Regions from separate parts of the Homo sapiens genome. Here all the other regions are reported to be linked to region 1. The links are microRNA targets in miRTarBase. Many come from high-throughput screens and were not tested one by one. Region 1 holds a microRNA gene; each other region holds the end of a gene's coding sequence.

Evidence for each region. Region 1 holds the annotated microRNA hsa-miR-520a-3p (AAAGUGCUUCCCUUUGGACUGU, at 2,523-2,544, shown strand). A microRNA usually pairs through its seed, bases 2 to 8, with sites in the 3' UTR of a target mRNA and lowers its output. Matches are read on the target gene's strand: a 7mer-m8 pairs with bases 2 to 8, a 7mer-A1 pairs with bases 2 to 7 and ends in A, and an 8mer does both.
Region 2: the mRNA of CEP104 is a reported target of hsa-miR-520a-3p. Seed matches in the 3' UTR shown: 7mer-m8 at 1,827-1,833.
Region 3: the mRNA of KLHL8 is a reported target of hsa-miR-520a-3p. Seed matches in the 3' UTR shown: 8mer at 1,444-1,451 and 7mer-m8 at 1,009-1,015.
Region 4: miRTarBase lists MANEAL as a target of hsa-miR-520a-3p. The part of its 3' UTR that is shown has no 7-base or 8-base seed match.
Region 5: miRTarBase lists TIMM17A as a target of hsa-miR-520a-3p. Seed matches in the 3' UTR shown: 7mer-m8 at 3,512-3,518 and 7mer-m8 at 2,786-2,792.
Region 6: miRTarBase lists MIXL1 as a target of hsa-miR-520a-3p. Seed matches in the 3' UTR shown: 7mer-m8 at 1,043-1,049 and 7mer-m8 at 1,607-1,613.

What each region holds. Positions count from the first base shown.
Region 1 is chr19:53,688,411-53,692,499 of GRCh38, forward strand. MIR520A (microRNA 520a) reads left to right here and starts at 2,471; the gene lies at 2,471-2,555. MIR1283-1 (microRNA 1283-1) reads left to right here and starts at 71; the gene lies at 71-157. The region is part of intron 2 of LOC107985342 (a long non-coding RNA gene); the gene reads left to right.
Region 2 is chr1:3,811,680-3,815,755 of GRCh38, forward strand. It overlaps CEP104 (centrosomal protein 104), which reads right to left. Exons shown (of 22, transcript NM_014704.4): 22 at 407-3,838. The coding sequence ends at 3,723. Among named protein-coding and RNA genes, the nearest start is that of LRRC47, 17 kb to the left of the region's middle.
Region 3 is chr4:87,160,297-87,164,368 of GRCh38, forward strand. KLHL8 (kelch like family member 8) reads right to left here. Exons shown (of 10, transcript NM_020803.5): 9 at 3,582-3,783; 10 at 1-3,346. The coding sequence ends at 3,223. Among named protein-coding and RNA genes, the nearest start is that of KLHL8, 58 kb to the right of the region's middle.
Region 4 is chr1:37,799,783-37,803,871 of GRCh38, forward strand. It overlaps MANEAL (mannosidase endo-alpha like), which reads left to right. Exons shown (of 4, transcript NM_001113482.2): 4 at 1-1,351. The coding sequence ends at 421. It overlaps YRDC (yrdC N6-threonylcarbamoyltransferase domain containing), which reads right to left. Exons shown (of 5, transcript NM_024640.4): 5 at 3,163-4,089. Among named protein-coding and RNA genes, the nearest start is that of C1orf122, 6.0 kb to the right of the region's middle.
Region 5 is chr1:201,969,114-201,973,202 of GRCh38, reverse strand. It overlaps TIMM17A (translocase of inner mitochondrial membrane 17A), which reads right to left. Exons shown (of 6, transcript NM_006335.3): 6 at 2,539-3,734. The coding sequence ends at 3,649. Among named protein-coding and RNA genes, the nearest start is that of SNORA70H, 7.3 kb to the left of the region's middle. RefSeq lists a silencer at 2,233-2,410.
Region 6 is chr1:226,225,388-226,229,476 of GRCh38, forward strand. It overlaps MIXL1 (Mix paired-like homeobox), which reads left to right. Exons shown (of 2, transcript NM_031944.3): 2 at 120-1,673. The coding sequence ends at 425. Among named protein-coding and RNA genes, the nearest start is that of MIXL1, 3.8 kb to the left of the region's middle.

The DNA of each region.
Region 1 (4,089 bases):
TTTTTCTGTCCATTTAAACCTGGTCAAAGAAAATTCCAACACGAAACCCAGAGTGCTGGAGCAAGAAGATCTCAAGCTATGAGTCTACAAAGGAAAGCGCTTTCTGTTGTCAGAAAGAAGAGAAAGCGCTTCCCTTTTGAGGGTTACGGTTTGAGAAAAGCAGTGTTGAAGTTGATGCTGATCTTGGTAATACATTTGCAGAGCATGCTTATCATCAGACTTGGATGATAGCGGGGTTATGTTTTGGTTTTGTGTTTTTCTAAGACAGGGTCTCCGTTGCCCAGGCTGGAGTGCGGTGGCACTTCCAACCTAGCTCTCTTGGGCTCAAGTGATCCTCTTTTTATTTATTTATGTATTCATTTTTGAGATGGAGCCTGGCTCTGTCACCCAGGCTGGAGTAGAGTGGGATGATCTCCACTCATTGCATCCTCTGCCTCCCAGGTTCCAGAAATTCTCCCACCTCCGTGTCACTAGTAGCTGGGATTACAAATGCTCACCACTATGACCTGCCAGTTTTTGTACTTTTGGCACAGACGGGGTTTCACCATGTTTGCGGGGCTGGTCTCAACTCCTGACCTCAAGTGATCTGCCTCCTTGGCCTCCCACAGTGCTGGGGATTATAGATATAAGCCACCGTGCCCGGCCCATTCCTGTCTTTTTAATTTAATCTGCTCGTCCCTGACATCGAAAATTTTTCTTGCTTAACAGCTTCCACTTATTTCTCGGAATAGACCTTTTTCTGCAGGAAGGGTGTAGTTGATTCAACCCTCACCCACTCATGCCAACCGTAGTGAGTGCTGTGACTGCAGCTGCACTGTTTATCCTGTTTTCTGCAGGTAATTTTTCCAGTGTACCATTCCAACCTGCAAAACCTCACATTTAAATGCAAATTTCTTGGTAAGCTGTGAAATGTTGGCTGTGGCTAATATGAGAAACAAGCTATTATAGACAAGATGAATCTCAGTTGCAGTGATAAATGTCACATGGGACAAAACCACAGATACTTTCACAAAAACCTTGAGGACCCTAGAAGGGCCTCCCTAGTAACAGGTGGGATGCGCATCCGCTCTTGTTGCCATAGTGAGTGATGCCTGTTCGTCCAGCCCTCAACACCTTTCACTCCGTGGAAGTTATGCCTGCACTGGTTTACAGAACCTCCCTTGACTTGACTTGAGGTAGAGTTGAAGGGAACCTCAGTGTCCCTTGCAGATGGGATGTGCATTGCTTCGCAAGAGCACAGAGGTGGAGTGCATGGGCTTTGAGTTTTTATTGGGTAAATGAAGCTGAAATACAGGGTGTATGACCACGTTATCAACGCACACTTGATTTAGGTTTTGTATTTTAGAGACGGGGGTGTGAGCTGCCAAAGCAAGGACTTATGTGTAGGAATTATTCTTTCTGTGAGCATACAGTATATGGAACTTTCTTTCTTTTGAGACAGGGTCTCAAAAATATATGATGTATGGCCAGGTGCGGTGGATCACGCCTGTAATCCCAGCAGTTTGGGAGGCCGAGGCGGGTGGATAACCTGAGATCAGGAGGGCGAGACCAGACTGGCCAACATGGTGAAACCATGTCTCTGCTAAAAATACAAAAAATTAGCCAGGGCTGGTGGCGCACGCCTGTAGTCTCAGCTACTCCGGAGGGTGAGGCAGGAGACTATCACTTTGAGTGTGTGTCTTTGTGTGTGTGTGTGTGTGTGTGTGTGTGTGTGTATGTGTTTCTAGTTTTTACAAGACACAGCCTGACTATATCACCGAGGCTGGAGTGCAGTGGTGCAATGTTGGCTCACTGCAACCTCCACCTGCCACCGCAGCCTCCTGAATTAGTGTCTACAGGTATGCACCACCACACCTGGCTCACTTTTGTATTTTTTGTACAGATGAAGCTTCACCATGTTGCCCAGGCTTGTCTGGAACTCTTGAGCTCAAGTGATCCTCTCACTTCGGCGTCCTGAAGTGCTGGGGTTAGAGATGTGAGCCACCGCACCCAACAGGTACTTGTGTATTTTTTTATTGAGGAGCTTTTACAGCGTAGCCTGTGGTCTCTCCTGGAGGATGTTTGTGTGTGCGACAATGTACATTCTTCAACATCTTAGATTCCATTTTGGATGCCCCCATGGGTACTACATGTGCCTATACTGGAACTCAAGTGAACACTTGGCTCAAAATCCATTGCTGTTCTCTAGAAATTCAGTTCGATTCTCTTGGTTAAAGATAAGGTATGAGTAGTAGGCATTGCTTTTTCTCTTTGGGGGCAAAACTCAGGAGGATTGCCCCTTGATGAACAAGGCTAACCTGCTGAGCCTTTGAAAGAAGGAACTGGAGATGGTCCTTTTAGGGGGTTTATATTCTGGATTCCAGAAAACATGCAAACAGGGCCAGGAAAAATGCATCTTTATTTTTGTGTCCATTTAAACCTGGTCAAGGAAAATTCCAACAATAAACCCAGAGTGCTGGAGCAAGAAGATCTCAGGCTGTGACCCTCCAGAGGGAAGTACTTTCTGTTGTCTGAGAGAAAAGAAAGTGCTTCCCTTTGGACTGTTTCGGTTTGAGTAAAGCAGCGTTGAAGTTGATGCTGATCTTGGTAATACATTTGCAGAGCACGCTCATCATCAGACTCGGATGATGTTGGGGTTCTGATTTTGTTTTTCTCCAAGACAGGGTCTCTGTTGCCCAGGCTGGAGTGCAGTGGCAGTTCCAACCTAGCTCTCCTGGGCCCAAGAGACCCTCTATTTATTTATTTATTTATTTATTTATTTATTTATTTATTTATTCATTCATTCATTTAGAGATGGAATCTGGCTCTGTGACCCAGGCTGGAGTGCAGTAGGACAATCTCCACTCACTGCAACCTCCATCTCCCAGGTTCCAGCAGTTCTGCCACCTCAGCCTCCCATGTAGCTGGGATTACAGGCGCCCACCACCATGTCATGCTAATTTTTGTATTTTTAGCAGAGATGGGGTTACACCATGTTTGCTGGGCTGTTCTCAACTCCTGACTTCAAGTGATTTGCCTCCCTGGCTTCCCAAAGTGCTGGTATTACAGGCGTGAGCCACTGTGTCCGGCCTCAAGTGGTCTTCCTGAGTCAGCCTCCCAAGTAGTTGGGATTACATGGGGCGTGACACAACACTTGGTTCAGCTTTTAATTTTTGGTAGAGATGGGGTCTCTGTTGCTCAGGACGGTCTCAACTCCTGAGCTCAAGCGATCCTACAGGTGTGAGCCACCTTGTCCTGATGACCCATTTCAAAGATAGTTGACTTGGCCAGGCATCATGGGGCACACAGTCCCAGTTACTGCAGGGGCCGGGGCGGGAGGGTGCTTTGATTTTAAGGCTATACCGTGCACAGATCCCACCTTTGAATAGCCACTGCACTCCAGCCTGGGCCAACATAGCAAGATCCCATTTCTTTAAAAACAGATTACATAGCACCTGGTCCCACAGATTTCATTTGGGTTGGTCATGTCATACAATGGCCTCCCATCAATTTAGTATAATCAATCCAAACCATGGTTCCTTCATTAAGAGAGTGGGTAATCCTCCAAGTCCATCCAGTCTATTCTGTAATCCCCAGTGGGTGTCCGTATTGATACAATTTCTTTTTGTTCCTGTTCACTCGTGTCTTTTTAGTGTAATCTGCTTGTCCGTAACACTGAAATTTGTTTTTCCCCAACATCTTGCCATCATTTCTCGGAATAGACCTGCTTTCTCTGCAGGAAGGGTGTAGTTGATTCAACCCTCACCCACTAATGCCAACCCCAGTGAGTTCTTTGACTGTAGCTGCCATGTTTATCCTATTTTCTTTGGGTAACGATTCCAAGGTACCATTCCAATGGGCTTAAACCTTGCATCTAAATGCCAGTTACTTGCTAAGATGTCAAATGTGTCTTATATTAGCTGTGGCTAATATAAGAAACTGTTGTAGACAAGATGAATCTCAGTCACAGTGATAAATGTAGCATGCAACAAAACCAGTTGTTTTCACAAAAATCTTGAGGACCCTAGAAGGGGCTCCCTCGTAACAGGTGGAATGCACAGCAGCTCTTCTTGTTGCCATAGTGAGCGATGCATGTTCTTCCAGTCCTCA
Region 2 (4,076 bases), not on the chromosome of region 1:
GTGCTTAGTTGAAAAGCAAAACAGCCTTGAGGGCTGGTAAAATCCCTCTTTCAAAGGGGGGAAAACCCATGAAGAGACTAGAAAGTATAATCCTCTACTGGGCACAATTAGAGAACTTAGAGAACATTCTGAATTTATTCCACAGGATGAAACTGGTCAATCATTTTCTCTAATCTCCATGTGGCTTCAAATTGTCCAGTTTCTTCAGCAGTGAACTTGTTTTGACAAATTACTTATTCTAGGGACCAAACCCTCAGGGCAACTTCATATTTGCCGTGTCTTTTTTCAGCAATTTTCAATCTACTTTCTAAGGTTTCAGGGCTGGGCTACACTTCCATGTTTATTAAAGTAAATGTAATTGACAAATTACTTTTTAATTGTAATGTTGAAATAAAGTGACAAAACATTTAGTGATCTTTTTATTATATTAATATACTCTGGGTGAATTAACCCTTAAGCCCTAAAACGACAACAAAAATATATTACTTAGATATTTTGTAATTCTGGTACTTGAAATAAAGACAAATAGAAAACTATGTTAAAATATTAAAAAGTTGCAAAATTTCATTAAAAACATTTACATTTGTATCCTAATGCCAATTTATACATACAATTCTTTTAAGTTAGATTTAATGGAATATCTTAACATATGAAAATAATAGAAATAAATATTAAATATTCAGAACATACTCATGAGTGAAAATTCAATTAATTAGTATTCCTAATTTAGATATTTATTTATGAATGACCAAGGGATTTTACAGTTCCTTTTTAATTTTTTGTACTTGATTCTTGGTCCCTTAACAATGTATAACCCTGTAAAACTCTCAATAGCCACTAATCACTGGTAGGATCATTTCAACAAAAACACATGATTGGGCCGGGCGCGGTGGCTCATGCCTGTAATTCCAGCACTTTGGGAGGCCGAGGTGGGTGGATCACAAGGTCAGGAGTTTGAGACCAGCCTGGCCAATATGGTGAAACCCCGTCTCTACTAAAAATACAAAAAAATTAGCCAGGCGTGGTGACACACGCCTGTAATCCCAGCTACTCGGGAGGCTGAGGCAGGAGAATTGCTCGAACCCGGGAGGCGGAGGTTGCAGGGGGCCAAGATCGCGCCACTGCACTCCAGCCTAGGCAACAGAGCAAGACTCCGTCTCAAACCCCACCACCCCCGCAAAACAAAAACAAAAACAAAAAAACAACAAAAAAACCCCCTGTAACTAACAAAAGAGGAACCTGTTTTAAATGAACCCGTTTGCTTGTCAATCACTAAAAATGAAGTCTTTTTATAAGTATTTTCTTTAAGTTACAATATATAGAAGGCATGTGTATATGTGTGTATATATATATATATATTTCTTAAAAGTGTTGATTGGTGAGAAAAGAATAATTCCTTGGTTAACTTTTCTCATTCTTGTTCTGTTTAAAGAAGTGTTTTGTCTGTATTTTAAAAATGGATTAGAAAATAATGGCCAACATCTCTTTAAAACCAGAAAAAATCATTTTACAGACATCTTGGCATCTATACTCTGTTTTGTCTAATAAACTTTAAAGTTATTTCTCTCCTTATACTTTTTTTTTTTTTCGAGACGGAGTCTCGCTCTGTCGCCTGGGCTGGAGTGCAATGGCATGATGTGGGCTCAATGCAACCTCCACCTCCCGGGTTCAAGCAATTTTCCTGCCTCAGCCTCTCAAGTAGCTGGGACTACAGGCCACCACGCCTGGCTCATTTTTGTATTTTTAGTAGAGATGGGGTTTCACCATGTTGGCCAGGCTGGTCTCGAACTCCTGACCTCAGGTGGTCCGCCCGCCTCGGCCTCCCAAAGTGCTGGGATTACAGCGTGAGCCACCGCGCCTGGCCTCCTCTCTCCTTATAAACACATTTAACCTGGGCGTGGTGGCTCACGCCTGTAATCCCAGCACTTTGGGAGGCCAAGGTGGGCAGATTATGAGGTCACGAGTTCGAGACCAGCCTGGCCAACATGGTGAAACCCCATCTCTACTAAAAATAGAAAAAATTAGCCGAGCATGGTGGTGTGCACCTGTAATCCCAGCTACTAGGGAGGCTGAGGCAGGAGAATTGCTTGAACCCAGGAGGTGGAGGTTACTGTGAGCCAAGATCACGCCATTGCACTGCAGCCCGGGCGACACAGTGAGACTCCGTCGCAAACAAGCAGACAAACAACACTGAGCAGAGCATATTCTTAAAGGTTCCTGGTAGGTCTTATATCTTACTCAGTATTCTCAGTCAACCAGAGGTATTAGTTTACCAAACGTGGAGATTAATTCATGCAAATTTATGGTTATTAATGTATCCAGGCCAGGGAGTACATTGTTCAAATCGGGATTAGTTTTTAGATATTTTGTTGTTTCACACGGTTGGCAATTAAAACATATTTATACACTAATTGCATTAATGCAAACTCCATCAACCCAAACCTTTCTAACTATCCTTTTTGAAGTCTGCCCATGCAACATCAGCGAGGCAAGCAGAAGCCCTGGGCACCAGGTGGGAGGGGACTGCCCTTCAGTCCATGGTAGCCTAGGCCCCTGGGAGCACAGGCTGGGGCAGCGAGAGGGTGGATGCTTCCAGACAGACCCTGACTCCCTCCACATGGCTGCCTGGATGTGACACAGGCCCAACCAAAGCTATGGACAAAACCCCCAGCTCACTCCCACAGGAGGGGATGGCTGGTTAGGAGACTGTTTTTTGAGGGTTGGTTTCATCATTTTAAGCAATGTGTTGATGTTTTAAACATCCTATCAACTCTTTGAAGAAAGTAAACTTATGGATCCAATCACAACATGGATGTGGAAGGGGCGGGAGGCCCATACCAGTGGGCTTCTGCCTGCTGTGAACACAGGGTGATCAGGTGGAAATTCATTTAACAGTGACTTCCTCCACATGTCTTTAGGAATTCGAAAGTGTGGAGAAAGTGAAGCGCCTCTGAGCAAAGGCACGGGAAGGGCCCACACCTGTGTCTACCTCAGTTCCAGCAGGGAGCTGATGCCTGTCACAGGGGCAGCACTACTGGAGAAGCATCCAGCAAGGTGCGGCTGAGGTGGGACCAATTCTCAAAAAAACTACGATTAAAAAAAAGATGTTCTCTTTTGCCTTTATTTCTTGCTATAGTGGGAACGTGAGTTCTGCTACCTGGGGCTGAGTGCACTGGGCAGCAGGCCCAGCAGACGGGGCCTGCAGGGGGAAGGCACGGCTGGAGGCCCGTGCGCACCGCCACTCTCCTGGAACCGCTGCTGGCCGAGCCACAGCCCTGCGGAAATTCTACTGCGTGTGGCAGAGACCGATGTGCAAAAGGTTTCTGGTGAATGTTTTATGGAAATTGCTCCAAGCACTAAGGAAAGCGGGACCGTGCCTGTGCTGACCGTGGCCTTGCGCGAGCGCCTCCCGGCGGTGCTCTCTGGCTCTCTCCAAACAGGACGCTTCCTTCTCTGATTCTAAGGAAGGCCTGAGACAGCCCTGAAGGCTTAATGTACAGTGCGGCCAGGTCCTGGCACTGCACGCAGGATCTTTGGTTAGCTGCATCCATATCGTTTGCACGAGAGCTGACGGCACAGACGCGTAAGAGGCGTGCACGGCGGGGAGCTGGGGACAGCAGCCAGAGCATGGGGCCACCAAGGCCAGAGAGTTCTGGAGAGATGGTGTAGAATCAGGAGACCCGCTCCATCCCTCACAGAGACCAAGGAGCCCGAGCGCCGCGTCAGCGCTTGGCGTACGTCCTGCTGGAGCTCTTGCTCAGTCCGCCCTTCGGGGTGGGGATCTTGCTTCCGGCCTTTGACCCCAAGGGGCCTGATGCGGCCACAGCTGAGCTTTTCCCTGCAGAGCAAGCACAGGACCTGCATTAGGAGGGGCACTCCTACCCACGGACCAGGTGCAGAACCTGTGGCCACAGACACCCAGCAACAACGTCCCAGGCCCATGCTGATGGCCGTCACCCGACTACAGGAGCCAGGGCTGAGCCTAGTAGGGTCTACTCTTCAGCTTCCTATTTTTTTTTTTTTTGTTGAGACAGAGTCTCACTCTGTCACCCAGGCTGGAGGGCAGTGGCGCAATA
Region 3 (4,072 bases), not on the chromosome of region 1:
ATGAAGGGGAAAGAGACATAGCCAATGGCATCCCAGTAATAATTTCTTTACACATCTGATACGAGAAACCACAGAAACATTCTTAACTGATACAACATGAATTAGATTCTAAAGGCATTCTTTAAGACATAGAGAAAAAAGAAACAAAGAAAATTCTCAAGTTTACCATTTACAAGAATAGTTTATGCAATTTCAAGAAGTCCTTACCAAGGCATTCAACAGCACTGTAAGTTCAAAGTTCATTTGGGAATTAAAAGAATGAATAAAATACTCCTTAGAGGGAGTACAAAGTTTATTCAAACATTTTAGAAATAATCAATTAATTACATAAGTATATAGTGAAATCTGTCAAAAACAATGTCAAGTAACTTGTTTTTAAAGTGGCAACGCAATATAGTAAAGCAATGGCTTTAATGACTAAATGAAAGAATCACAAAGCACCTAGAAATATTTATTGAAGAAATAATAAACAAATTTTCATGATTTATTTTGTCCATTTGCAATTTCAGTATTTTAGCTCTATCTCATATCATTTTTTGGTAGGTGCTGTTAACATATGAGGTTAAAGTGGTAAGTCTCACAATAAAGTAGCCATCTTCTTTGAATATTTCATCTCTTCATTTCTATGAATATAATCATCTTTCAGCTGCATGATTCCTTCAGCCTGATTCTCATTTCATGTCTCAATAAACGTGTTTTTGCCTGATAAAGAGAACTGTGCACATATTGATTCTGCTTTTTTATCTTTTTTTTTTTTTTTTTTTTGAGATGGAGTTTCACTCTTGTTTCACCGCTGGAGTGCGATGGCTCAACCTCGGCTCATTGCAACCTCCACCTCCTGGGTTCAAGCAATTCTCCTGCCTCAGCCTCCTGAGTAGCTGGAATTACAGGTATGCGCCACCACGCCTGGCTAATTTTTGTACTTTTAGTAGAGACAGGGTTTCACCATGTTGGTCAGGCTGGTCTTGAACACCTGATCTCAGGTGGTCCACCCACCTCGGCCTCCCAAAGTGCTGGGATCACAGGCGTGAGCCACCATGCCTGGCCTATTTATCTTTTCATACTGCTGTCAGGTCCTTCAAGGCTATGCTTCTGATTGCCCACACACTTTACTTCTGAGTATTTCATATTTTACGGGTAGGTAGGGTACCAACTTAGTATGTTAGATAACCATTGTATAGTAAAAACCAGAAATGAAAATATAATAACCCTTATAACTCCTTACATATAAGAAAGACAGAAATACATCAAAGAAAAAACATTTTAAATAATCTCAGGAAACAATAACAAGATCCTCTCCCCGAAAATAAATATAACAAACATATTAGTAACCATAGCTAAACAAACACTGTAATATAAGAACTCCATTAGACATAAGAAATAGACATTGAAGCCAGGTTTTGACACTTATTCTCCACATCCAGCCAGTTGTCACCAGTCTAGTAAGTGCTACAGGGTTAACTGCCTCTGGACTGACTGAAATATGGTTGTACTTACACAAAAGAACACTGGTTCAGATCCAGCAATGACTTATGAACTTGCCCATAGGTAGAAAAAAATAGCTTACTGGATTTATATCTGCTTCATAAGAGACTTTTATCTGCCAGCCTGACCCCTCTTAAAACTTTTTTTTTTCTTTTTTGGTTTGATATACTCAATAGGCACTGGCTTTTTTTTGTGATGTGGCTTTTTTTGTGATGTGGCTTTCCACACTATTGTAGAAGTCCAGAATCCCATTTAATAAGATGCATGAGCTATTAGTCAATGAACTTTAGGGCTGGATGGATCAACGAAGTGTTTTTCACTGCCCCAGCTTCCTTATGAACCAGATTACTGACCAGCGGTGAACTACAATAAATTCGAAGACACAACTAACAAAAACTTAGGAAGGCCTGGAAGAGAGGTGCCAAACTGCACTGCAAATACAAAATAAAATATTTTCATGTTCTTGATAAATATTTATAAAAAAATATACATATAATGAATAGGCCATTTTATAATGCTAGTTAAAACTTTGAAGAGCTGTTAAATCTGTAGGTCCATCAATATCCTGGCTTCAAATCAATATGTAGAAATATTTTTAATTAAATTTCAATAAATACACCAGAGGGATTTAAATATGATAAAAACAGTAATTTCAATCTCTGTTTTTACCAACAATATGTTTAATTAGTTCGTGATGGGCTTGAACTAATCAATAAACTACAGTCTACAAAAAGGTTTTTGTAAAAATGCATTCATTTCTGATAATAAATAAATGCAGATTGATTCTGTACAGTCAGAAAAACCAGGATGGTGGCAAATAGCAAAATAGAGAGATGATAAATCTTGGATCCAAAATCAAATGATCAAAGAAGACAGTTAAAGATATTTTCAGACTGCCCACATTAGAGTCATGTAATCTGCATCATTCTTTCTCAAGGTCTCTCAATTGGGCACCAGAATAACATCAGATCTAAAACCTTGTTCAATATTTCCTCTGGTTCACCTTTTGATTATGTAACAAATACTTTTTGCAAAAGATGAAAAAATAAAACTGTAAAATCATTTGGATGGAGTTAGCCCAGCTAGGTCTTTTGGTGTCCTAGCAATTCAAACTGAAATTAAAGGCTTCTTATAGCCTATAAGCTTCTGAAAATGCAGCTAAGTGGCATTCAAAAAGACAGAACATTTTTTCTACTTCCGTAAATATAAAAGAAATTGAAAAATCACCACCTAGAAAAAAAAAGCTAGGCATAAATTCATCAGCACCAAGTAGAAATGATCTTCAAAAGGGGCAAGTCTCTTATGTATCCTTGTGTTAATGAATAGGTACTAATCTCTCCTCTAGGAAAAACCCACTGCCTGACGTTAACATCTTTAGGCAAAAGAAAAGGCAAAACTCAACAAATTACATTTTGATTCATCCAAATAGAGAGAGAGAGAGAGATTTCAAGATTTTTGGCACTACTTTAAGCATTTTTCAGGGTAGGTATGATTTTAAGTTCGACTATCTTCTTCCCTACTCCATTATTTGCAAAAGCAGGAAGTATCAAATTTAACTCTATTACTAATAATTCTTCAGGTATCATTCCAAAAGTTGTACTTAGTCACAATACAACAGTTAACATTTAAATAAGACTCTAGTTGCAGTAAAAAGTGTTGAAAGGTGGTCATATCAAAATCTTGGTTTTCTTTTGTACCTATCAGATATGACTAAATTGTTGGTGGCCAGAACTCAAATCACATACAGTCAACCACATTATTGGATCCATGACCTACATCTCGAATTTGGCTAGTTAAACAGGAACACACAGCTACTCCTGCTCCAGCTCTGCAGTGAGACACAGATCCAACAAGCTCCCACCTGAAAAGACGGAGAAGAAAAAATGTTACAAAGCATAATTTACTTTACTCAAAATACTAACCAAAGACAAAAATTCCCTATGTGAGACTGGTTTTGTAGGACAGCAAGCTTCCAGTGGGAGATAAGATATCCCAAAGCTTAGTATTAACTACGACTAGCAACATTTTAACACTCTGAAGTAATCTACTATTATACCAGAAGATAATATAAAGCACGGAGACAACATGTAAATTACCTATTCAGCACTGGATCAAACGCTTCTACTGTATTTAAGTATGCATTGCCATTATGACCACCAACTGCAAAGATTTTGCCCATCACTGTTGCGATTCCCACTCCACCTCTGGGAGTAGTAAGTGCTGCCACATAATCCCACTTGTTGCTTCGGGGGTCATACCGCTCAACTGAACTCAGAGGAGAATTATCATCAAAACCACCTATGTAAAGAAATATTTTAAAAACAGCATTACATTCCTTAGAAATTAACTACTAAATTTCAATTCAATGGCTTTTACAACCCAATCTTTTAAAATCATTTTAGAATGGTTTAGAGAAAATTTTTTTAAAAAATTCATCCCAATACCTGTCTACCACCACCAACAACTACCATTAGATGTTGTCTACAATTCCACGTTAGGTAAGTGACATTTTCCTCAATACTAGGATTAAAGATCTTGTAAGTAGGAAAAAAATGGAGTCCCTGTATCTAAGCAGATAATTCAGAGA
Region 4 (4,089 bases), not on the chromosome of region 1:
ATTTGACGGCATGTACACCTACTTTGCCTCCAATGGTTTCTCCTTTGGTTCTTCCCATCAGAACTGGAAAGCTGTGAAGAACTTTTGTGATGCCAACAACCTCATGTTCATCCCCAGTGTGGGGCCTGGCTACATAGACACCAGCATTCGGCCCTGGAACAACCACAATACGCGCAACAGGGTCAATGGCAAGTACTATGAGACGGCCCTGCAGGCGGCCCTGACAGTGAGGCCCGAGATCGTTTCCATTACCTCCTTCAATGAGTGGCACGAGGGCACCCAGATTGAGAAGGCCATTCCCAAGAAGACACCCACCCGCCTGTATTTGGACTACCTGCCTCACCAGCCCAGCCTGTACCTGGAGCTGACACGCCGCTGGGCGGAGCACTTCATCAAAGAGAAGGAGCAGTGGCTCATGTGAGGGGCCTGTAAATGGGCGTGAGGTGCTGATGTCCTTGCCTTGCTGGAAGATGTCACCATGTGGGGTTCAGCTGAGGTTGTAGCCACTCACTCGTTCCCAGGTCAGAGGTCAGCAGATGGGTGTTTCTGGGTGGGCCGTCAGGCATGGGCCTGTGCAACACAGAGCCCGTTCCTCAGGCGAGTGGTGCTGAGGTGCTCTGTGGTGATGGGAACGGCAGAGGCTGGCAGGTGACTGAACTTAGCCCAGGGCAGCTCCACATCCTGGGAACACTTTCATGTAACCCCTTCTAGTTTTGAACTCTGCAGCAGGCTGGTGCTGTGTAGTGGCCACCCAGTCACCACCCTTGGAAGGGTGTCAGGGTCTGGGCTCGCATGCACCCTGCTCCCTTCTGCCAGCCTGCATCCTCTCCTCAGGCCTCCTTCCCACATCATCTGTCTTCTCTAAGTTAGGGAACCATATTTGAGACTTTCAAAAAGGGAACTTCTAGGTTTAAGCTCCTCCCAGTAGATTCCTGAACCCAATTATCAGGAAATCATCCTGAGCACTCACAGGTTCATTTAACACTCACTCATCAAGCACCTTCCTATGTGCTAGGTGCTGGGGAAAACTTGACCAAGGAAGAGTTCCTGTCCTGAAGCTTCCAGGACCCAGCTTTCCTTTTCTGGTGTGGCCTTGTAGCTAGTGCCTGGGCACAGGTGTTTTTCTTTTTGCAGTTTTACCTAGTGCTGGGAGTTCAGTTCTTTTTCCTCTAGAAAAATACCTCTGTGCTCCAGAGCCTAATTTTTCCCAGATGCATATTTAGCTCTAGGGAGAGGACTAGGAGGAAATCCCCCTCCCTTTAGCTGCCTGAACTGACTGAGGCCCACTCACTAGAGCCATGTTCAGTGCTACTGTGATTAGTAGTAATTAAATATGAACTGGTATTCTCAAGTAAGCATTCCTTTTGCTCTCTTTAAGACCTCACAGATTCTGACCTTAGATTCTGTGACAAACTGATACAGGAGCTGGGCTGGCTATGGCTTTACCACAACAAGTAGGTTTGCTTAAGAAATTACTAAACAATGGCTGGGCGTGGTGGCTCACTCCTGTAATCCCAGCACTTTGGGAGGCCGAGATGGGCGGATCACGAGGTCAGGAGATCGAGACCATCCTGGCTAACAGGGTGAAACCACGTCTCTACTAAAAATACAAAAAAATTAGCCAGGCGTAGTGGTGGGCGCCTGTAGTCCCAGCTACTTGGGAGGCTGAGGCAGGAGAATGGCGTGAACCCGGGAGGCGGAGCTTGCAGTGAGCCGAGATCACGCCACTGCACTCCAGCCTGGGCGACAGAGCGAGACTCCGTCTCAAAAAAAAAAAAGTTACTAAACAAGGCTGGGCGTGGTGGCTCACACCTGTAATCCCAGCACTTTGGGAGGCCAAGGAAGGTGGATCACCTGAGGTCAGGAGTTCGAGACCAGCCTGGCCAACATGGTGAAACCCCATCCCTACTAAAAATACAAAAATTAGCTGGGCGTGGGTGCCTGTAATCCCAGCTACTTCTGAGGCTGAGGCAGGAGAACCGCTTGAACCTGGGAGGCGGAGGTTGCAGTGAGCCAATGTGGCACCACTGGACTCCAGCCTGGGCAAGAGCAAGACTGTCTCAAAACAAAAACAACAAACAAACAAACAAAAAGAAAACACAAAAAACATTACTAAACAAGATTTCTAGAGGGAATTAACAAACCAGTGCTTATTTACCAATAAACTAATACGCTAATTGCAGGAACCCTGATTAAAGCAGGCCCCTGTTAACACAAGATTCTTAGGATATACTTGGAAACAGGTGCATTGGAAACCACTGTACTGAGAAGTTTATGGGCTCAAGACTGAATTGGAAGCTAGGCGTGGTCGCTCATGCCTGTAATCCCAGCACTCTGGGAGGCTGAGGTGGAAGGATGAGTTCAGGAGTTCGAGACCAGCCTGGGCAACACAGAGAGACGTGTCTTTAAAAAAGTAAAAAATGGGCTGAGTGCCTTGGCTCATGCCTGTAATCCCAGCACTTTGGGAAGCCAAGGCGGGTGGATCACTTCAGGCCAGGAGTTCAAGAACAGCCTGACCAACATGGCAAAACTCCATCTCTACTAAAAATACCAAAAAAATTAGCAGGGTGTGGTGGTGCACACCTGTAGTCCCAGCTACTCAGGAGGCTGATGTGTGAGAATCACTTGAACCTGGGAGGCGGAGTTTGCAGCGAGCCAAGATCGTGCCACTGCACTCCAGTGTGGGCAACAGAGATTCTGTCTCAAAAAAAAAAAAAAAAGACTGAATCAGAATTTTGGGAACTAGGGTACAAGAGGGAAGGGGAGGAAGGAGGAAATAGACCCCAGTGGTCACCTCAAGGACACCCAGCCCCAGTTAGGTAACTGATATTAAGCCCCACCAGAGAGATGAGCAGGCCTGGCCACCTGGCTTTGGGGCTTAGCTGGGGAAACCAAGGCAGGCAGGGACAGCTGAAAGGGTTGGATGTTGACCTGTAGTAATTTACAGAAGGTAGCAACACTGGCTTCATTTAACACACACACAATCTGAAAAATACTAAACATGGGAAGGCCAGGGGGCAGAGGCAGCCATTCTCACACACTGCTAACAGCAGTGTAACTTGACTCAGTTCTTTTGAAGGCTAATCCATACTGAGAGCCATAAATACTTCCTACACTTTGACCTACTCTCCTAAGGAAATAATTCAAAAGAAGAAAAACAAACCATTTACAAATATGTTTAATAGCAGCATTTCTTTAAAGAAAAACAAAGTTCAAATGCCCAATAATAATTATGTTTAACACTTGGTACACATATAAATAGACAAAAGGCTGCGGAGAACACTGGATTTAAATAAAGGTGTTATGGGTATAATTAACTATAATTTATTTTATGAATAAATAAGAAAAAAGTCCCTGGCTATAAAGGATAGTGGAGGTTTATTTCCCAATATTCTTCCATTTGGACTGAACCCCTGCCAACTAAGCAGACATCCCACTATTACACCAAAAAGACTGCTCTCCCTGCGAGCAATTACAATACATGACACCACTAGGCCCAATGGCTCAGAGGGAAGAGTGGCCTGTGGCTCTTCAATCTTTATCCAAACCTGGTTCTAGCTTCAGGAGCCTTTGGTCACCTGAGACTTTTTATTTATTAATTTTTATGAGACGGAGTATTGCTATGTTGCCCAGGCTGATTCTGAACTCCTGGGCTCAAGCAGTTCTCCCGCCTGGGCCTCCCAGAATGTTGGGATTACAGGCATGAGCCACCACACGCAGCCACCTGAGACTTTTTAAACAGCACCAGCACTTCTGGCTGGTTTGAACCTTAAATGCCACCACCCACCAGAGAGGAGGCTCTCACTAGATTCTAAATCTGTTATTTAATTACTTTTCAATTGAAAAACAAAACAGACAGAAGAAACTTATTAGAATAAGGCCACCTAGGAATGTTCTTAACTTTTCCATTCAGCTTTTGGCTGATATATGAAAATACAAATAAATACATCCTTTCCCCAGGTGCAAGGCTAAACCAGCAGCTCCAAGGGCTTGGTCTACAGTGCTCAGAAAGACACACTGCCTTAAAAGTCAGGCTAGTGCCCTAGCTCCGGTGGCCTCTGCAAATGAGGCCTTGACAGTCGTCAGTGG
Region 5 (4,089 bases), not on the chromosome of region 1:
CTGCCTCAGCCCCCTTGAGTAGCTGGGGCTACAAACATATGCCACCATGCCCAGCTAAATTTTTTGAATTTTAGTAGAGACAAGGTCTCATCCATGATCTAACAGACTGAATAGAATTTATTATTATTATTATTTGAGGCCAGATGCGGTGGTTCATGCCTGTAATCCCAGCACTTTGGGAGGCGGAGGCGGGCAGATCACCTGAGGTTGGGAGTTCGAGATCAGCCTGACCAACAAGGTGAAACCTCAAGTCTCGACCCCAAGTGATCCACCCGCCTCAGCCTCCCAAAGTGCTGGCATTACAGGCATGAGCCACTGGGCCCAGCCTGAATAGAATTTGGACAATTAATTTTAACTATAAGTAACATGCCACAGGGTGGAGCTATGACCATGCTTTCATAATTTGCAGACATTTCCTATGTGAAAAACAGATGCACTTTCAATAGCAGGTGCAGCTGTACCCATGTCTTCCAAACCCTGATTCAGAAATCCACTATTTCGGCCAGGCACAGTGGCTCACGCCTGTAATCCCAGCACTTTGGGAGGCCGAGGTGGGAGGATTGAGTCCAGGAGTTCAAGATCAGCCTTGACAATGTGGCAAAACTCTGTCTCTATTTAAAGAAAGTGCTGGCCAGGTGCAGTGGCTCATGCCTGTAATCCTAGCACTCCATCTCAAACAAACAAACAAACAAACAAACAAACAAAAGAGTCTTGTTCTGTTGCCCAGGCTGAAGTGCAGTGGCATAATCATAGGTCACTACAGGCTTGACCACCTAGACTCAAGGGATCCTCCCGCCTCAGCCTCCCAAGCAGCCGGTACTACAGGTGTGCACCCTATCTCTGGCTAAATTTACATTTTGTGGCTAGCGTCTCACTAGCCCAGGCTAGTCTCCAACTCCTGACCTCAAGCGACCTTCCTGCTTCAGCCTCCCAAAATGCTGGGATTATGGGTATGAGCCACCATCCCCAGCTGAACTGTTTAATAAATATTCTAAAACTAAATTTGGTATACTAGAGTAGAGCTCAAGATAAAAAGTAAAAAAACTAAATTGTTTTAATAACTGAAATAAATAACTGGAGAAACAAGCAGATTAGGAAGGAGGTTTTCCCTAGGTCTTTACTGGAATAGTGAAGTTAGTTTCTCACTTTTAAGGTTGAAATGCCCATCAGAAATACCCCATCTGTTTTGCTTTGTATCTGACATCTTGTGCCAAATTGGCATGCAATAGTGGATTACTTTTTTGTTTTGAGACAGTCTTGCACTGTTGCCCAGGCTGGAGTGTAGTGGTGTGATTTTGGCTCACTACAACCTCTTCCCTCCCAGGTTCAAGTGATTCTCCTGCCTCAGCCTCCCAAATAGCTGGGATTATAGGTGCCCGGCACCATTACCAGCTAATTTTTTGTATTTTTAGTACCCACCGGGTTTCACCATGTTGGCCAGGCTGGTCTCGAACTCCTGACCTCGTGATTCACCCTCCTCAGCCTCCCAAAGTGCTGGGATTACAGGCGTGTGCCACCGCGCCCAGCACTTTCTTTTATATTTTTGAGACGGAGTCTCGCTCTGTCGCCCAGGCTGGAGTAGTGGCAAGATCTCGGCTCACTGCAAGCTCCACCTCCCGGATTCACGCCATTCTCCTGCCTCAGCCTCCAAAGTAGCTGGGACCACAGGCGCCCACCACCACGCCCAGCTAATTTTTTGTATTTTTAGTAGAGACGGGATTTCACTGTGTTAGCCAGGATGGTCTCGAACTCCTGAGCTTGTGACCTGCCCGCTTTGGCCTCCCAAAGTGCTGGGATTACAGACGTGAGCCACTGCACCCGGCCAGACTCTTGTGTCTTTAAAAAAAAAAAAGTTAAACCTAGAACTACCATATGACTCGGTAATCTCACTCTTATGTATATATCCAAAAGAACCAAAAATAGGAGTTGAAACAGATAGTTGTACACCAATGTTCATAGCAGCATAATTCACAATAGCCAAAAGGTAGAAACAACCTAACTGATCATCAAATAAAATGTAGTATATGCACACTATGGAATATTATTCAGCCCTAAAAATAAATTTTGCTACATGCTACTACATGGACCTTAAAACACGCTAAGTGCATTAAGACGGACACACAAAAACAAATATTTTATGATTCCACTTATATAAGGTACCCAGAAAAGGCAAATTCACAGACAGAAAGCAGAATTGTGGTTACTAGTGGTTGTGGCGAGGAAAGAATGGGAAGTTATTATTTAACAGGTACAGAGTTTATGTTTGTGAAGGCTGGACATGGTGGCTCATGCCTGTAATCCCAGCATGGGGTGTGGGAGGCTGAGGCAGAAGGATGGCTCGAAGCCAGGAGTTCGAGGCTGCAGTAAGCTATGACTGTGCCACTGCATTCCAGCCTGGGTGACAGAGTAAGACACTGTCTCTAAAAACAAAACGGAGTTTATGTTGATGATAATGAGAACATTTTGGGTATACATAATGGTGGCTGTTATACAACATTATGACTGTATTTCAATGCCACTGAATTATACACTTACAAATGGTTAATAAGTATTATTTTATGTATATTTTACCACAGTCGAAAATTCCCAAATTATCCAAACACAATCAGTAATTAAATGCCTACCATATGTATGGCATTGGGCCAAAAGATAAACGTGTGTTTACAGTACCCACATGGCTTTGTTCTCCATTTCCCACAGATGTAGGCAAATGTGTAATTAACTAACATCATGCCTCCTATAGGGCCACATGTCACTTCCAATATCAGGAAAATGACCTGTTCTGAAGTGCTCATCCATTTTCCAGGCCCAACCAGACCCCAAAATACATCGTTTATGCAGAGGACTTGGAACACATTCAAAACAGTACATACTTTATTTTCAAGCATACAAGAAACACTAAACTCTTCCAGTGCCAGTACACTCTCCATGAATTCTTCATATAGAATTGGGTATATTGGAAGCAAGTTGTTTCTGGTGAAATTTCTGATGATCAGGAATCAAGACTCAGTAGCCCTAAAGGAAGAGAGTTTTGTATCCAATATCCTCAAAACCAAGACATAGTATATTTTACTTTCAAAGTAAACTATAAACATTTTACCATATCCTTCAATCCATAAAGCATCTCACTGTGAAATGATCCATGTTGACTCTGCATAATTCTCAGAAGTCACTTCAAGTGATGAGGGACTAACTATAAAACATGCATTATTTGAAGTACATGAGCATGAAACATCGAAGTCTACAACTTATCTTAAAAGAAAGAGTAAGTTCCACCAGCTTTTTATTGTTTGAATAACAGAACACACAAAACCAGGCAGAGAAGTCCGCAAGGAGATGATGATCATATTTCACTGTTTTTTGGCCTTTTGGTCCTTCATCTTTCAAGCACTTACTGTATTTTCCTTTAGCGATTTAAACATTTATTTTGATCACAAATGCAATTCAAGTGTGAATAAATAAACGTATTATCTTTTAGCACCCTTCCCCGCTTGTTCCTTTAAATAGAAAAAAGTGCTAAATGTCTCTTTATAGCCTATTGGCCATAGCTGTCCCACCTATGGTTTTAAAAACAGACTGTAACTTGATCTTCTGAAATCCTTCTCGAACCACAACTCGTTCTGTTAAAGAAATCCTAGGAAAGAAGTCCTACTGATATTGTCGATAGTCTCCAAAAGGTGAGGAAGGTAACTGAGTTGAAGGCAACTGGGAGGGGTCTTCTGCAAACTGAGGACCTGCAAGTGAGAAATAAAAAGGATTTAAAAATCACCTGAATATTATATTATTAAAAAGAACAAATCTCTATAGAGAGTAAATCAATCAACAACAAAAAAATGTGCTAAATTAAAGCTATAACCCTAAATTTCTTTATAGATCTGCCTAATTCCCATAAGAGTACTGGAGAACCTTCAAATTTGGTATAACATATGACAGACTGGCTTGCTATGCTCCAGAATGAACAGTTTTCAAACACTATGCTAGGAAAGTCAGACGGATTAATTATAGCAAGAAGCAAACTTCAAGTTTTTAAAGCAATTGCTGTAACAAGCTGCCATATATCAAGATTAGAAGAGTTTCTCCCACTTCTTG
Region 6 (4,089 bases), not on the chromosome of region 1:
AGGCTCTGGAGAGGAAGCCAGGGGATGTTAAACTGGAACTTACCAGTATGAACTGTGAACATAATGTTAGCATAAAAAACTCCAACCAAAAGCAGCTTTTATTTTCTCCCCTCTTCCAGGTATGGTTCCAGAACAGGCGTGCCAAGTCTCGGCGTCAGAGTGGGAAATCCTTCCAACCTTTGGCTAGGCCGGAGATTATCCTCAACCACTGTGCTCCTGGAACTGAAACGAAATGTCTGAAGCCCCAGCTGCCTCTTGAGGTAGATGTGAACTGCCTGCCCGAACCAAACGGGGTTGGAGGGGGCATCTCTGACTCTAGCTCCCAAGGTCAGAATTTTGAAACCTGTTCCCCTCTCTCTGAAGACATTGGTTCAAAGCTGGACTCATGGGAGGAACACATCTTTTCTGCCTTTGGTAACTTTTGAGGATTCTGGGAGAATTCGGGATAAGCTCTGAGGAGCCATGACTGACAGCCTGGGAGAGACACATCAGCATACTGTCCTTTCTGACTTCCATGCTAAGGACATGTCCTTGTTAACCTTGATGATGGTTTTGACAGCACCTCTCACATTTGAAGGTACCCCGCCACTTTGTCAATGACGTTTTAAGCCCACACTCCCACCCCAGAGTTCCCGCATTCGTTTTTACCTGTGTTCTCTCCAAGCCTGCACATTCCATTGGTCTGCATCCCTATGCCTTCTTGCCAGGCCTGTTTTTAGTTTTTGGACTGGTTGTTCAGAACTCATTATTTTCTTCACAAGAATGCCTCAGCTTGACTCAGTTTCCCCTTGTGTTTGACAGCTGCCATTTTCTCCTGGTCCCTCCAAGGCTTATAATCTTAAAGTCACTCTACCCCGTCTCTTCAACCCTCATCCTAGGTTTATTACTTTTTAAAATTGGGCCTGTCATCTTCACGTTCAATCATAGCTCCAATGACTCTGCATGCAGATTATTTCGACAGCCCCCTTGCCTCTAGCTTCTCAACTACTTAAAAAAAATTACCCTCTGTGGGCCAGGTGCAGTGGCTCACTCCTGCAATCTCAGCACTTTGGGAGGCCGAGTGGGTGGATCACCTGAAGTCAGGAGTTCAAGACCAGCCTGGCCAATATGGCGAAACCCCATCTCTGCTAAAAATATAAAACTTAGCTGGGCACGGTGACGGGAGCCTGTAGTCCCAGCTACTCAGGAGGCTGAGGCAGGAGAATCACTTGAGCCTGGGAGGTGGAGGTTGCAGTGATCTAAGATCGTGCCACTGCACTTCAGCCTGGGAGACAGAGGGAGGCTCTCAAAAAAAAAAAAAAAAAAAAAAAAAATTACTCTATGGTTCTGTGGTAGCCTCCAGTTGCTACCAAATTATAAAAAGCTTTCAGTTACCCTCCCAGATAACTGATATCATCCTTAGCCTGCAGGACAGCTATGCAAATCTGAAGGTCAACTATCCACAATATATGCTTTGGTCTTAAAGTCACTCCTTTCAGTTTTGAACCAAATTCATACCTTTTGCTTTCAAAACACTCGAGGACTCCCCACCTGCCTTCTGAAGTCTGAAATTTTCTCTAAGTAATCCTGATTTTGCACCTGTTACTTCGATCACTCCATTACCCTTAGCACTTGTTATTGTACTTCCTGTGCAAGTTTTGTGGATTATTAAATGTCTTTCACAAATGTTCCAATGTAATTTCTATTTAAATGAATTCTTCTAGATAACTCCTAGTACAGTGCTTCACTCCACAATTGCTCAGTACATACTATGTGGCCATGAAAGACATTTCTAAAAGTTTCTGCAAATGTAGTTTTTAGCCAGTAATCAATATTATATCAGCAGGCCACTGAGCTGAGAAATTTAATTGGGTTAAAAACATTTTTGCTTGAATGTTTAATAATATTTTGTGAGTATTTTGGTTTTGGGAAATTTCTCTTTGCAATTTATAATTCTAAATGTATGTAAATAACCGTTTCTAAGTCAGTCTAAGATCAATTAAAATATTTTGATATTTTGAGAGTTTTCAAACTCCTTTAGAGTCAAAGGAAATGGTCTGTGTATGAGGCAACCACAGGTGAAGTTTCTTTGTAAACTGTGCTTTAAAGTAGGCTCATGGGATGCCATAGCTAGCTAGGGCCAGGACATCATGTCTTGATGGTTACTAGAAGAGCATGAGATTATACATGCCAGATGCCCTAATTTTCAGAGATGTTATTCAAGTGGTTTGTACTTTTCTTTTTTTGAGATGGAGTTTTGCTCTGTCACCCAGGCTGGAGTGTAGTGGCATGATCTTGGCTCACTGCAACCTCTGCCTCCCGGGTTCAAGCGATTCTCCTGCCTCAGCCTCCCGAGTAGCTGGGATTACAGGCGCCCGTCACCACGCCCAGCTAATTTTGTATTTTTTAAAGCAACCAAGAGCTGGGCAACAGAGCAAGACTGTGTCAAAAAACACCACAACATACAAAAATTAGCTGGGCATGGTGGCACATGCCTGTAATCCCAGCTACTCAGGAGGCAGAGGCAGGAGAACTGCTTGAACCTGGGAGGTGGAGGTTGCAGTGAGCCAAGATCGTGCCACTGCACTCCAGCCTGGGCAACAGAGCAAGAATCCATCTCAAAAAACAAAAACAACAAAAACCAACCAAGAGTTTCCAAGCACTTAGGAGTTGAGGAAAAAAGCAAGCAAGCAAGCAACCAACCAGGAGGTTGGGCACAGTAGCTCATGCCTGTAATTCCAGCAGTTTGGGAGGCTGAAGTGGGAGGTTTGCCTGACCCCAGGAGTTTGAGACCAGTCTGGACAACATAGCAAGACCCTGTCTCTTGAAAAAAAAAAAAAAAAAAGCCAGGCACGGTGGCTCACGCTGTAATCCCAGGACTTTGGGAGGCTAAGGCAGGCAGATCACTTGAGGTCAGGAGTTCAAGACCAGCCTGGCCAACATGGTGAAACCCTCTCTCTACTAAAAATACAAAAATTAGCTGGGCATGGTGGCAGGTGTCTGTAGTCCCAGCTACTCAGGAGACTGAGGCAGGAGAATTGCTTGAACTCGGGAGGCGGAGGTTGCACTGAGCCGAGACTGGGCCACTGCACTCCAGCCTGGGTGACAGTGAGACTCTGTCTCAAAAAAAAAAAAAAAAAAAAAAAGTCAGGCATGGTGGCATGTGCCTGTGGTCCCAGCTAATCGTGAGGCTGATGTGGGAGGACTGCTTGAGTTCAGGAGTTCAAGGCTGCAGTGACCTATGAGCGTGCCACTGCACTCAGCCTGAGTGACAGAGTGAGACCTTGTCCCTGCCATTCCCCCAGCAAAAAGCAGCCAAGAGAACATAGTTGAGGCCTTAGCAGCAAAGTGTACTTATCGATTCTTTGAAAACTGTTTGAAACCAAAAATGAGCTGATAAACATTAGCTATTAACACTGTGCTCAGGGCCCATCCTGGAGGTGCTCAGGAGGTCTCACAATCACAGAGCTTTACATTTAAACTTGTGACTTACATTTAAACTTGTGACATGGCCAAATGAGATACTGCAAATACATCCACAAAACTGAAAGACATATAACACTTTAAATTATGGTCCACTAAGAATCGCACTTACGAAAAAATCTGGTAATTATTTTATTATTGCTTTTATATTGTCTCATGTTGTTTCCCCAGTGAACAACTGTAAAAATCTATAAATATGTAAATCCTGTTGTCACATTTTAAATTGTGGGATCCTCTAAGAAGTAGCCTGCAGCTCTCTCAAACTCTAAGAGGCCCTAACTGCTAAATGTGTTACAGACATTATCTATTTTATCCTCACACCTACCATGTAAGACAGGGACTAATCTTCCTACTTTAAAGATCAAGAAACTGAATCTAAGTAGTGTCTCACAATTATACAGCTTATAAATGGCATGGCCAGGACTCAAACTCAGCCCACCCATTAGTCTACCACCATACAGTGCCTCCTATATTGCAGTGGTCTTGTTAGTCAGGACTAATGATAAAGTAATGTGATAGGTTTAAAAGCAATCACCAAGTCAGAATTTCTACATGCCAGTCATTACTGTCTCATCTTTCAAGGAAATCACCACGGAAGACCATACTCTTATTCTGATGACATTAATG